Regions from separate parts of the Homo sapiens genome. Here all the other regions are reported to be linked to region 1. Evidence: microRNA targets listed by miRTarBase, many of them from high-throughput screens and not tested one by one. Region 1 holds a microRNA gene; each other region holds the end of a gene's coding sequence.
Evidence for each region. The annotated mature microRNA hsa-miR-32-3p reads CAAUUUAGUGUGUGUGAUAUUU and lies in region 1 at 1,552-1,573, shown strand. An mRNA with a match to its seed (bases 2 to 7 or 8) in the 3' UTR can be bound and repressed. Matches are read on the target gene's strand: a 7mer-m8 pairs with bases 2 to 8, a 7mer-A1 pairs with bases 2 to 7 and ends in A, and an 8mer does both.

Region 1 (3,143 bases):
GCAGAAAAATATCTACCTTGTTCATAAAGAACTTCAAGAAAGATGATGCTTCCATTTTCCTCAAGTAATCTTCATTGTTACTGACTCTTATTCTTAGAAAAATGTTTCTATTTTCACATCACAGCTTTTGAATTTTCTCTTGTTCTGCTTTCTTACAGCAGACCATCCTCTAAATGTCTGTCACCTTTTTTCATACCAAATATGCCACCTTTTTTGTTTTAAACTTAATTCCTAGCTGTTGTGTTTGCCAGTCAGTGGTAAGTAAAGCTGTTAGTCACACCTAGGTTCAGCTGATTGAAAGCACATACTCTGTTACACCATGATGCCTTCTTTCAAGAGGAGCTGGTTAGGGAAGATCATGACTTATATTTGTGGACATAAGAGGGTGGCATTTAGAAATTCAGGTCTTTGGCTCAGGAGAGAATTTGAGATTACAAAGAGTGCTGTCATCTACAGCGATATGAGGAAATCAGTCTTTTACAAATTAGATTCGACTTCCCTTCTTGGGAGTGCATACACTAATTATGTATTATAACAGTAGCTTATGTCTTGGTTCCATAGTATACTGGCATTTAAAAACCATTTGTTTTATTATCACCTTATTTTAAATACAGAAAAAATTTTAACAACCTTTGGTACCAGAACTATAATCTAATGGTTCTCAGAATTGATAGATTTTTATGAGTCTGATAAATATGGTACAGACTAAAGAATGGGTTATGGCCTGAGACATTTTTCTAACCAAAGCTATATCAAGTTATGTAATTTTAAGGCTATAATTCAAGGTGTTTTTTTTGCAGTTTAAGTTCCTAGGGCTGTTTCTTTACTGGCTCAAATTCAAGACTTAAAATGTACAGATTTTACAGAGATTCCTCTGAAGAGCTTTCTCCTGTGGAGAAGATGGTAGTGAGTTCTCTTTCTAAGAGCTCCTGTTGGATTTTTCATCCTGAAGGTTTGTGTTGAAGAGGCAATATGTTTCTTCATGGAAAAAGATTTTGAGGGAAAAATAAGTGGTTATTTATAATTTATGAATGACTATGAAAATATTGTAATGTCCTCAAAGTGCAGTTTAGCCTACAAATATCAGTGATACCAACTTTTATAAGCATCAGTCATTAATCATCATCTATGTTGCAGCTAAGTGGAAATCATTACATTCATTTATATGATCTGTGAATAAGTCAAAAATGGAATTGAAATTGGGGGTTAATTGCATGACCAGACAGTGATAGTGTCTGTTCGTGAAGCTTTGCCTTCTGAAGTATGTGGTTTCTTTATGATCACTATCTCATTGAAGTTTTGAACCTTACTCATTATTTTGATTCTGAATAAGTATTCTTCTCAGTTGAATACATTTGCAATTGGGTTTTCATTTCATGAAGTTTTGAGTCAGTGGCATGCATCCTTTATCCCCAGACCATTTTCCTCTCTTCAGCAGCATGTTGTCTCCTGAATGTATACATCACACCCTTCTTCCCTGATGCTCCCATTCTGCTTGCTCTGGTGGAGATATTGCACATTACTAAGTTGCATGTTGTCACGGCCTCAATGCAATTTAGTGTGTGTGATATTTTCACATGAGTGCATGCACACGGGTATGGCTCTTGCTTGCTGGGATTACAGCTTTTCAGTGCCAGTGGGTGGGTGTCCTGATGAATTAGATAAGACAGTGTGTATGCCATGCGATTCTCATTTGGAAAGTGAACATGCTTCCCATCGGTACCTTCCAATTTTGGAGAATTAAAAGTATTTGGATTAAAAAAAGTCAGCAATGATCATTTAGTAAATCAGTGTTTCCATTTTTTACTTTGAGCAAATGAAATATTTATTACAAATTCTCATTGATTTAAGAGTATAAACAATATTTAAATGTATAAGGAAGAATGTAAAGCTGTAAGAAAATGTATTTTCATTTATTTGAAGAAATCTCTCCCAACACTGGAATAGAGAAGCAGAAATCTCTTATGCATATTTGGGGAAATTAAATTAACTGGAGTTCTTAAATAATAATCAAGACAGTAAAGGTATGCTTAACCTACCTGATGAAAGATTCATCTCATAAACTTAAGTTTCCAAGGTAAATTACCTTAAAAATGTGTCTTTTACTTTCTCATTGTGATGCTTCGAAAACTGCTAAATTCATTTTAGTGGGCTAATAATGGAACTAGTTTTGAAATACACGTTTACTATTTGCCTATGTAATTGAAACAACCCCTTGTTATTTTTTTAGTTAGCATTAGAGTAAGCATCCACAATCACTAGGCATTGTCAAGGACACAAAACCATGTATTACTGTATGAAAATATTGAATTAATATTTACTACTACCATAGCCTCCAGATGATCTATTGTGATGCTGTCATTGTATGTTTCTGTGTTTCACCACTGTTTTGGAGGGTGAGAATGGAAGAATTCCACGTAAGCAGCTCATCCCCTGTGCCCTTCAGCAGCTCGGCCGTTCCCCTCATGCTGGAAATCTAATGTCAGCCAGGTTGCTATATGACACCCTGTGGAGCTGGGTTTCCAGGGCAGATTAATCAAGAAAGGGAAGATGTGACCTCTCAAGGGAGGTTGGGGCTGGGAAGGGGTGGGTAGAGAGAGATTTGTTAAAGGATACAAAAATTACTTAGAAGGCATAAGTTCTAATGTTCTACAGCACTGTAGAATGACTGTAGTTCAACAATAAATTATATCATTTCAAGTAGCTAGAAGGAAGATACAGAATGCTCCCAACAAAAGAAATGAGGCCAGGTACGGTGGCTCACGCCTCAAATCCCAGCACTTTGGGAGGCCAAGGCGGGCAGATCACCTGAGGTCAGGAGTTCAAGACCAGCCTGGCCAACATGGAGAAACCCCATCTCCACTAAAAATACAAAAATTAGCTGGGCTTGGTGGCATGCACCTGTAGTCCTAGCTACTCGGGAGGCTCAGGTGGGAGAATCTCTTGAACCCAGGTGGTGGAGGTTGCAGTGAGCTGTGGTCATGCCACTGTACTGCAGCCTGGGCGACAGTGAGACTCTATCTCAAAAAAAAAAAAAAAAACCAAAATGATAAATGATCAAGATGATGGATATGCCAATTACCCCTATCTGATTACTATACATTATATGTATTGAAACATTATTATGTACCCCATAAATATGT
Region 2 (3,143 bases), not on the chromosome of region 1:
AAAAGCCCTATATTTGTAATGAATGTGGGAAATCCTTCTCCCAGAAGACAACCCTTGCTCTTCATGAGAAAACTCATAATGAGGAGAAACCCTATATTTGTAGTGAATGTGGAAAGTCCTTCCGCCAGAAGACAACCCTTGTAGCACATCAGAGAACACATACAGGGGAGAAATCTTATGAATGTCCTCACTGTGGGAAGGCCTTTAGAATGAAGTCATACCTCATTGATCATCACCGAACTCACACAGGAGAGAAACCATATGAATGTAATGAATGTGGTAAATCATTCAGTCAAAAGACAAATCTCAATCTACATCAGAGAATTCATACAGGGGAGAAACCCTATGTTTGTAATGAATGTGGGAAGTCCTTTCGCCAGAAAGCAACCCTCACTGTACATCAGAAAATACATACCGGCCAGAAATCCTATGAATGTCCTCAGTGTGGGAAAGCCTTTAGCAGGAAGTCATATCTCATTCATCATCAAAGAACTCATACGGGAGAGAAACCATATAAATGTAGTGAATGTGGAAAGTGCTTCCGCCAGAAGACAAATCTTATTGTACATCAGAGAACTCACACAGGTGAGAAACCCTATGTTTGTAATGAGTGTGGTAAGTCTTTCAGTTATAAGAGAAACCTCATTGTCCATCAAAGAACTCACAAGGGAGAAAACATTGAAATGCAATAAATGATGTGGTTTCTTATATGAATTCTTTACAAGCTGTTGTAAACATTTAGTTTTAAAAAGAAAAGCATGCTGAAACATGTTAATGTAATTTTAAATCACAAGTCTAATAATTATTAAAGTACCATACGGAATAACTGTCTACTGTTTACTAGCATATAAAATAAGTATGATCATTATTATTGAACTCTATCAGCTATGAAGCTAAATTTTAAAGTCAACTGCTCTTCCTACTGACTCAAATAGTTTATTTTTTAAAAATACTTATATAATACATGCAGAGACAAGATACACAATGATTATAAGTATTAATCTCCATAAGAGAAAATATTTATGAACTATATTTCTCATTGCACTCTGTAATAAAAAGCAGTTAGTTGTTACTTACCTAAGAGTTACCACTTCCGTAGCCTATAACATCAAAACGTAGTTTTTGCATGTTTTCAATTTTATAAATATATATTTTATCAGACATCATGAATTATTTTGTGTCTTGCTTATTTCACTCAATTTTTTAAGATCTGTACATTATTGCATGTGGCAGTAGTGTATTTTCATTTTGCATACTATTCCATTTTAAGAATATATTGCTGTTTATCCTATTGATGGATATTTGTATTTTTTATACTTTTGTGTAATAATAAAAATACTGCTGTAAATATTCTTGTTTATATCATGTGTGTGTTTGCGTGTATGTATTTCTGTTGAATTTATACCTGGGACTGGACTTATTCATTCCAAGAGTATATATGAGGTTTTTTTGGTCATTCAGACTGGAGAATTTCTACTAAAAAGAAACCTTGCGGCTTTATAATTGTGAGAAGGCTATTAATAAATCATGGACATGTGAATGCAGTATATGTAGAAGGCCTTTAGCTGTCTCTCAATGCTTAAATGCAAAACAAGCAAATTCGTATTGGAGGGAAATCTTGTAGTTGTCATGATTTTAGGGGTACTTTAGCCATAGCTTATTACACCTTATTTAATATCAAGGAATTAGAATTCATACAAGAGAAAGGGACATTGAGAAGGGAAATAGGTGAGGAAAATTTGAGAGTACCAGAGTCTTTTTTTTTTTCTTTTTTTTTTTTTTTTTTGAGACAGAGTCTCGCTCTGTTGCCCAGGCTGGAATGCAGTGGAGCGATCTCGGCTCACTGCAACCTCTGCCTCCTGGGTTCAAGTGCTTCTCCTGCCTCAGCCTTCTGAGTAGCTGGGATTACAGGCATGTGCCATCACGCCCAGCTAATTTTTGTATTTTTAGTAGAGACGGGGTTTCACCACGTTGGTCAGACTGGTCTCGAACTCCTGACTTCATGATCCGCCTGCCTCGGCCTCCCAAAGTGCTGGGATTACAGGGTGACCCACCACGCCTGGCTACAACATAAGCCTTTTCTACCATAATCTATAAGAAATGTAAGTCTCTGAAAATCCCAAATAAGTGACTAGAGAGATTTTGATGTTTGAGAATTGGAAATCTGCGAAGACAGTGACTTCCACGGTATCCTTTTGGCGAGGAGAGTAAGCTCAGTGGCAACTTGAACAGCATTATTGCAGGTCCTTCTTGGGAAGGATTACTTATAACCAGTATTTACTATGTATATGAAGTCATTGTAATAAAATTCAGTAGAAATTGAAATTTATTAATTAATTTATTTTTTGAAATGGAGTCTCTATCGTCCAGGCTGGAGTGCAATGACATGGTCTCAACTCACTGTAACCTCTGCCTCCTGGGTTCAAACGATTCTCCTACCTCAGCCTCCCAAGTAGCTGGTACTACAGGCACGTGCCACCACACGCAGCTAATTTTTGTATTTTTAGTAGAGACAGGGTTTCACTGTGTTGGCCAGGCTGGTCTTGAACTCCTGACCTCGTGATCCATCCGCCTCAGCCTCCCAAAGTGCTGGGATTACAGGCGTGAGCCACCGTGCCCAGCCTGAAAATTGTTTTTTAAAAGATTTAGAACTGTAAACCATATCTGCATAAACAGAAAGATGGTTCAGGGTTCAAATATTTGACATTAAATATATTAAACAGACCCTCTGGCCTGTTAGAGAGGGACAGCCATTGCCAATCAGTAGTAAATGGAACCATTCTTGTCAATCCTTATTTTTCTGATAATTTCATAGCAAAAAATGAACAGGGCAATGAGACAAAAGCATAAAAATTTAGACTTGATAGTAGCACACAGAAAACACACGTGTGTGTATGTGTGTATATATGTAAAATGCCTTGTCTATAATGACTAGACATGTCATTAAATTTAGCCTTAATAATTTATATATGCATAAAGATTTTTTAAAGTATACATTTTTAAAGAATATAAAGAATTATTAATAGGTTTAATAAACCTATTAAAGTAACTAAAACAGGTAATTATAGGACTTATAATCAGAACTGTGAGAACCCAAGGATTTTGTCATTGTGAATTTATAGGGGAGTTATATACTAGTATAT
Region 3 (3,143 bases), not on the chromosome of region 1:
TGCAGATCTGCCCCTCCCCTCCGTCCCTCCCCCGTCCCGTGACCTCTGATGTGCGCTTGTCTGCTGACTCTGGGGCTGGGGGCTGTGTTCTTCCCTAGGACTGCGGGCTGCAGCTGAGCGGGGAGGAGGGACGCCGTTGCTATCCCCTGGCGGGCCACCTACTGTGTCGTCGTTGCCACCTGCGGCGCCTCCAACCTGGGCCTCTTCCCTCACCCACTGTGCACGTCACTGAGCTCTGAGCAGGGGAAAACCCGTCCCTGGGCCGGGGTGGGTGTGGGTGTGGAGGGAGGGCCCGCGTGGGTGGCCCTGGTCAGCGTCAGGGGAGCTCCCTCCAATCAGTTTCCCACCGAGCTGCTGTCTGCAGGGGCCGGACCCCCGCGTGGAAGCTTCTATTTATTCACCGTCTGTGCCTGCTCAAGTCACTTCCCTGCGGGCCCTGCCTCCCACCCACCCCATCACCAGCTTTCCACTTGGAGGCCCCCTGTGCCCTGCAGCCTCAGGGTAGGCCGTGGGTCACCAGGCTGGAGAGGGCCCCTGCCTTGGCCAGGGGTGCGAGGTGACCCGGCTGCATTGCTGGGTGGGAGCTGCTGTCTGTTGTTCAGGGGCCTGGCCCCCGCCCTCCCCCCCGACCCCGACCTCGCAAAGCGCACTCCCGGGCAGGGTGTGGTCTGGAAGGCGGGGCTGGCGGGGACATGGGTGTTCCTGCATCTCCTAGCGCAGTTCCTGCTGGTGGGTGGAAGGGTGCCTGGTTTAGGCGGGGTCCCAGGAGGGGGTGAGGGGTGACACCCTTGGGGAGGGGGCCTGCAAAGGGCACTGCCTGTGGCCACGTGGTGTCTGTGGGAATTGGTCCTGGGGACTTTGATGGGTGTTTGCGGCCCCAGTTGCCGCCCTGCTCCCTCTTCCAGGGCTCCTGGCTTGGGCCCCCCGACCCCCCTGCTCAGCTCGGGAAAATCCCCGTGCGGCTCCAGCCCCGGGTCACGCTCAGGAGCGATGAGAGGGGCGCCCTGGCCACGCTTCAGGAAAGCCTGTGTCTGCGCGCGGGGCAAGGGGCTCCACGACAAAAGGACAAGATTTGACTTAAATTAAGTTTTTCCCTTGAGGATATTTTCATTTTCTTTAAAAGAATATAATTTTCTTCTAAGATCTTGGACCAGCCTTGTTATTTTTAAAGCAAATGCCGGCAAACTCACAAGTGTCTAGTTTGTCTGTTACGGAGCTGGTTTTCAGGTGGTAAGAACCTTGTGGTTTCAGGACTTTTGTCCTGAAATTCCTCTAAAACTTCGCCACGCGTGTCCACCTTTCAGACTTTAGGGTAGTGTGGGGTTCCGTGTGTGTCCGGGTGTTAAGGGCGGTCGCCCCATGAAATGCAGTGTGGAGGTCCCTCCGTGCTCCCCGGGACACACTGACGGGAATGTGGGGTCTGGACATGGGAGGCCCTGGTCCTGATGCGGAATCCCCAGGGGTTCAGGGGACATCTGGACTGAAGTCACTCGCCCCTGGGAGAGCCTGGACCCACCTCTTGGCTGCTGCTCTCCCCTTCCTCCCCCACCGTCAGGTGTGAGTTCTGTGAATCACTCGCGGGGCTGGGCTAGGCTCCGGGAACCAGCAGGGCTGTCCAGGCCGAGCCCAAGGGAACAAACACCAGGAGGCGCCCGCAGGGAAGTGGCGGCTTCGGAGTCCAGCAGGGCCGAGGCATGGCGCGGGCGCCACCTGGTGGGCTGAGCCGGCAAGTACAGGGGTGGTCAGGGAGCCTTAGCCAGGGACTTACACAGCGTGGAGAGCGCTGCATCTTAGAGTGGGGCCTTCAGCAGGACCAGGGGCCACTTCTTGGAGGAGGTGATCCCACTGGGGCCAGAGAGTAAAGTCCAGGCGTGGAGGCTCCGGTGCTGGCTCTCTCCTGCTAGCTGAGCTGCTTTTTCTTTTCTTTTCTTTTTTTTTTTTTGAGACGGAGTGTCATTGTGTCACCCAGGCTGGAGTGCAGTGGCACAATCTTGGCTCACTGCAGCCTCCGCCTCCCGGGTTCAAGCAATTCTCCTGCTTTAGTCTCCCGAGTAGCTGGGACTACAGGCGCACGCCACCACGCCCGGCTAATTTTGTATTTTTAGTAGAGATGGGGTTTCACCATGTTGGTCAGGCTGGTCTCCAACTGCTGACCTCAGGGGCGATCCACCCACCTCAGCCTCCCAAAGTGCTGGGATTACAGGTGTGTACCACTGTGCCCGGCTTTTTTTTTTTTTTTTTTTGAGACAGGGTCTCGTTCTGTCGCCCAGGCTGGAGTGCGTTGGCACAATCTGGGCCTACTGCAACCTCTGCCTCCAGGGTTCAAGTAATTCTCATGCCTCAGCCTCCCCAGTAGCTGAGACTACAGGTGTGCCCCATGACGCCCAGCTATTTTTTTTTTTTTTTTTTTTAAAGACAGAGTCTAGCTCTGTCGCCCAGGCTGGAGTGCAGTGGCGTGATCTGGGCTGACTGCAACCTCTGCCTCCCACGTTCAAGCATTCTGCCTCAGCCTTCCAAGTGCTGGGATTACAAGTGTGCGCCACCAGGCCTGGCTAATTTTTGTATTTTTAGTAGAGTCGGGGTTTCACCATGTTGGCCAGACTGGTCTGGAACTCCTGGCCTCAAGCGATCCATCCGCCTTGACCTTCCAAAGTTCTGGGATTACAGGCGTGAGCCACTGTGCCTGGCCTTACTTTTTGTATTTTTAGTTGAGAGGGGGTTTCAGCATGTTGGCCAGGTTGGTGTCAAACTCCTGACCTCAAGCGAGCCCACCTTGGCCTCCCAGAGTGTTGGGATTACAGGCTTGAGCCACCGTGCCTGGCCTGGGCTCCTTTGCCTTCTAACTGGTCAGTTGCAAAGCTGTCCTCTGAACTGTCCTCTCTGCTTCCTCCCTCAAACCTGCTTTGAGCCGGGTTTCTCCTTGTTGCCAACCCGGTCCTTCTCCTCCCCTTCCTTTGCATGTGCCATGGTGGGCCCTGTGCTTATATCCATGGGGTTGCTTCACTGAACCCTGCTCCATCCCGGTCACCATGCACGCTCCTGCCAGCTGGCCTGAGTCATCACAGCTTGGAGTCCCCCCAACCCCACCCAAGTAACACACTTTGTCAAAGGTCGCAGTCAAGGGACTGCATAGGCCCTTGGGG
Region 4 (3,143 bases), not on the chromosome of region 1:
GGTGACAGAAATCCTGTCTCAAAAAAAAAACAAAAAAGTTTTATCTAATAGTCATAAAAAAGGAAGCCAAGTGAAAAATTACTTAAACCAAGTGTGTTGATACATTAAGCTATGAGACATCTAAAATAATGAAACTTGGAACTTAGTGGAACATGTACATGTTTTCAGCATACTTAAACCCAAAAATCATTAATTTTCAGAACTTAATCAGTGCTTTTACATTTGTTTTTTCTTTTATGCTAGTTGGAAATGGAGGATGAAGATACAATTGATGTGTTCCAACAGCAGACGGGAGGTGTCTACTGAAAAGGGAACCTGCTTCTTTACTCCAGAACTCTGTTCTTTAAAGACCAAGATTACATTCTCAATTAGAAAACTGCAATTTGGTTCCACCACATCCTGACTACTACCGTATAGTTTTCTCTATTCTTTCATTTCCCCCTTCCCCATTCCTTTATTGTACATAAAGTAACTGGTATATGTGCACAAGCATATTGCATTTTTTTTTTTTTTAACTAAACAGCCAATGGTATGTTTTGATTGACATCAAGTGGAGACGGGATGGGGAAAAATACTGATTCTGTGAAAATACCCCCTTTCTCCATTAGTGGCATGCTCATTCAGCTCTTATCTTTATATTCCAGTAAGTTATTTTGCTCTCACTGTTTTAACAAAAAAAAAAAACAACAACATAAAAATCCTTGCATACCTTGTTCAATTGGAGAATTTTAATGTTTTTCATTTATCATTGTAAAACCAAGGACAATTTTATAACTTTTTTGTACGTAGCTGTTACATGTAGGGCAATCTGTCTTTAAGTAGGGATAAATTACTCTAAAACAAAAAAGAATCCTAGATAGTTTTCCCTTCAAGTCAAGCGTCTTGTTGTTTAAATAAACTTCTTGTTTAAAATGAGCTGTTTTCTTTATTCTGAGAAATATTAAATAGAAAATTGAGGCTTAGAAAAAACATAAATAGGCCTGCTTAGAAGTAACATTTCAAGAAGGAAATAAAGCTACTTGGTGTTTCTGACAGACTGATACTGATGCCAAACAAAGAATAACAGTTTTATAAATATCACCTTGTTCCAAAAGTTTCTCTAGGTCCCATGTTAATATGCAAGTATACTAGCAGAAAAATTGGGCCATAGTATCGTGGATTTCCAGGTATTTTCTGTATATTAAGTGAGGCACGGAGCATAGGGTATAGGGTAGCACATGTGGCAAGGAAAAAGTTCTGATTTTGCCTTTGTTGCTGATAAAACACTGAACCATTCTAGCCTGCACTTATCATAAGTAAATACTCCCTAACCTAAAATAAAGTTTTCGTTCCTTATTCAAGGATTTTTTTTTTGAGACGGAGTTTTCCTCTTGTTGCCCAGGCTGGAGTGTAGTGGTGCAATTTCAGCTCACTGCAACCTCAGCCTCCTGAGTAGCTGGGGGGTCATAGGTGCATGCCACCACGCCCAGCTAATTTTTTTTCTATTTTTAGTCGAGACAGGGTTTTATCACGTATGCCAGGCTGGTCTCGAACTCCTGACCTTAGGTGATCCACCCGCCTCAGCCTCCCAAAGTGCAGGGATTACGGCATGAGCCACCACGCCTGGCCTATTCAAGAATATTGAGGGACAGAAAATATCTATATATATCCATCCTCAGAACCTTAAATATACAGGTCACTACAGTCTTTATTATTTTAATTTTTGTTTCTTAGGGTTTCTTTTGGTGGTGGTTTTTTGAGATGGAGCATCATTCCGTCTCCCAGGCTGTAGTGCAGTGGCACAATCTTGGCTCACTGCAAGCTCCGCCTCCCGGGTTCACGCCATTCTCCTGCCTCAGCCTCCCGTCTTAGGTCTTTTTGAAAGAGGTTATGCCTCTGTTGCCTAGTCTGGAGTGGTGCAATGGTGTGATCTTGGCTCACTGCAACCTCCACCTCCAGGTCTTAAGAGATCCTCCCTGCTCAGCCTCGTGAGTAGCTAGAACCGCAGGTGCATGCCACCACAGCTAATTCTTGTATTTTTTATAGAGAGTGTTTCGCCATATTGTCCAGGCCGGGCTCAAACCCCTGATCTTAAGTGATCTATCTGCCTTAGCCTCCCAATGTGCTGGGTTTACAGGCGTGAGCCACTATGCCCAGCCCCTTTTTAATTTTTTAAAAATGTTTATTTTTGAGATGGAGTTTCGCTCTTGTTGCCCCAACTGGAGACCAATGACATGATCTCAGCTCACTGCAACCTCCGCCTCCCGGGTTCAACTGATTCTCCTCCCTCAGCCTCCGGAAAAGCTGGGATTACAAGCATCTACCATCATACCTGGCTAATTCTGTATTTTTAGTAGAGAAGGGGTTTCTCTATGTTGGTCAGGCTGGTCTCCACCTCCCGACCTCAGGTGATCTGCCTGCCTTGGCCTCCCAAAGTGCTGAGATTACAGGCTTGAGCCACTGTGCCCGGCCAAATTTTTATTATTTTTAAATTAGAGGTGGGGTCTCACCATGTTGACCAGTTTGGTCTCGAACTTCTGGCCTCAGTCCCTTGTCTTGGCCTCCCAAAGTGTTGGGGTTTCAGGTGTTAGACCCCATGCCCAACCACTACAGTTTTTGTTTTTGTTTTTGTTTTTTTTTCAGACGGAGTCTTGCTCTGTCGCCCAGGCTGGAGTGCAGTGGCGCAATCTTGGCTCACGGCAAGCTCCACCTCCCGGGTTCACGCCATTCTCCTGCCTCAGCCTCCCCAGTAGCTGGGACTAAAGGTGCCCGCCACCATGCCCGGCTAATTTTTTTGTATTTTTAGTAGAGACAGGGCTTCACCATGTTAGCCAGGCTGGTCTCAAACTCCTGACCTCAGTTCATCCACCCGCCTTGGCCTTCCAAAGTGCTGGGATTACAGGCATGATCCACTGCGCCCGGCCTCACTGCCATTTTATAGATGAGAAAGCCAAGTTCCAGAAAAGTTGTGAAATAGACGGTGACTATAAAACTGGGACTAGAGATAGTATCCTAATGCTTGTTGATTGTTTTTGTCCATACTGATTGTCAACCTACCAATATAATCTACCATCAAGTCACCATGTAGTATTATGTGTTATTTCTCTTAATCTGCTGTACCTTTGTTTTTTGTTTTTTTGAGACGGAGTCTTGCTCTGTTGCCC

Region 2: miRTarBase lists ZNF567 as a target of hsa-miR-32-3p. Seed matches in the 3' UTR shown: 7mer-m8 at 894-900.
Region 3: miRTarBase lists WTIP as a target of hsa-miR-32-3p. Seed matches in the 3' UTR shown: 7mer-A1 at 1,079-1,085.
Region 4: miRTarBase lists SUMO2 as a target of hsa-miR-32-3p. Seed matches in the 3' UTR shown: 7mer-A1 at 826-832 and 7mer-A1 at 2,468-2,474.

What each region holds. Positions count from the first base shown.
Region 1 is chr9:109,044,661-109,047,803 of GRCh38, reverse strand. It overlaps MIR32 (microRNA 32), which reads left to right and starts at 1,506; the gene lies at 1,506-1,575. The region is part of intron 14 of TMEM245 (transmembrane protein 245); the gene reads left to right.
Region 2 is chr19:36,719,977-36,723,119 of GRCh38, forward strand. ZNF567 (zinc finger protein 567) reads left to right here. Exons shown (of 6, transcript NM_001322917.1): 6 at 1-1,360. The coding sequence ends at 692. Among named protein-coding and RNA genes, the nearest start is that of ZNF567, 34 kb to the left of the region's middle.
Region 3 is chr19:34,500,031-34,503,173 of GRCh38, forward strand. It overlaps WTIP (WT1 interacting protein), which reads left to right. Exons shown (of 8, transcript NM_001080436.2): 8 at 99-3,143. The coding sequence ends at 239. Among named protein-coding and RNA genes, the nearest start is that of WTIP, 20 kb to the left of the region's middle. RefSeq lists a silencer at 1,780-1,839.
Region 4 is chr17:75,165,502-75,168,644 of GRCh38, reverse strand. SUMO2 (small ubiquitin like modifier 2) reads left to right here. Exons shown (of 4, transcript NM_006937.4): 4 at 244-3,059. The coding sequence ends at 306. Among named protein-coding and RNA genes, the nearest start is that of JPT1, 13 kb to the right of the region's middle.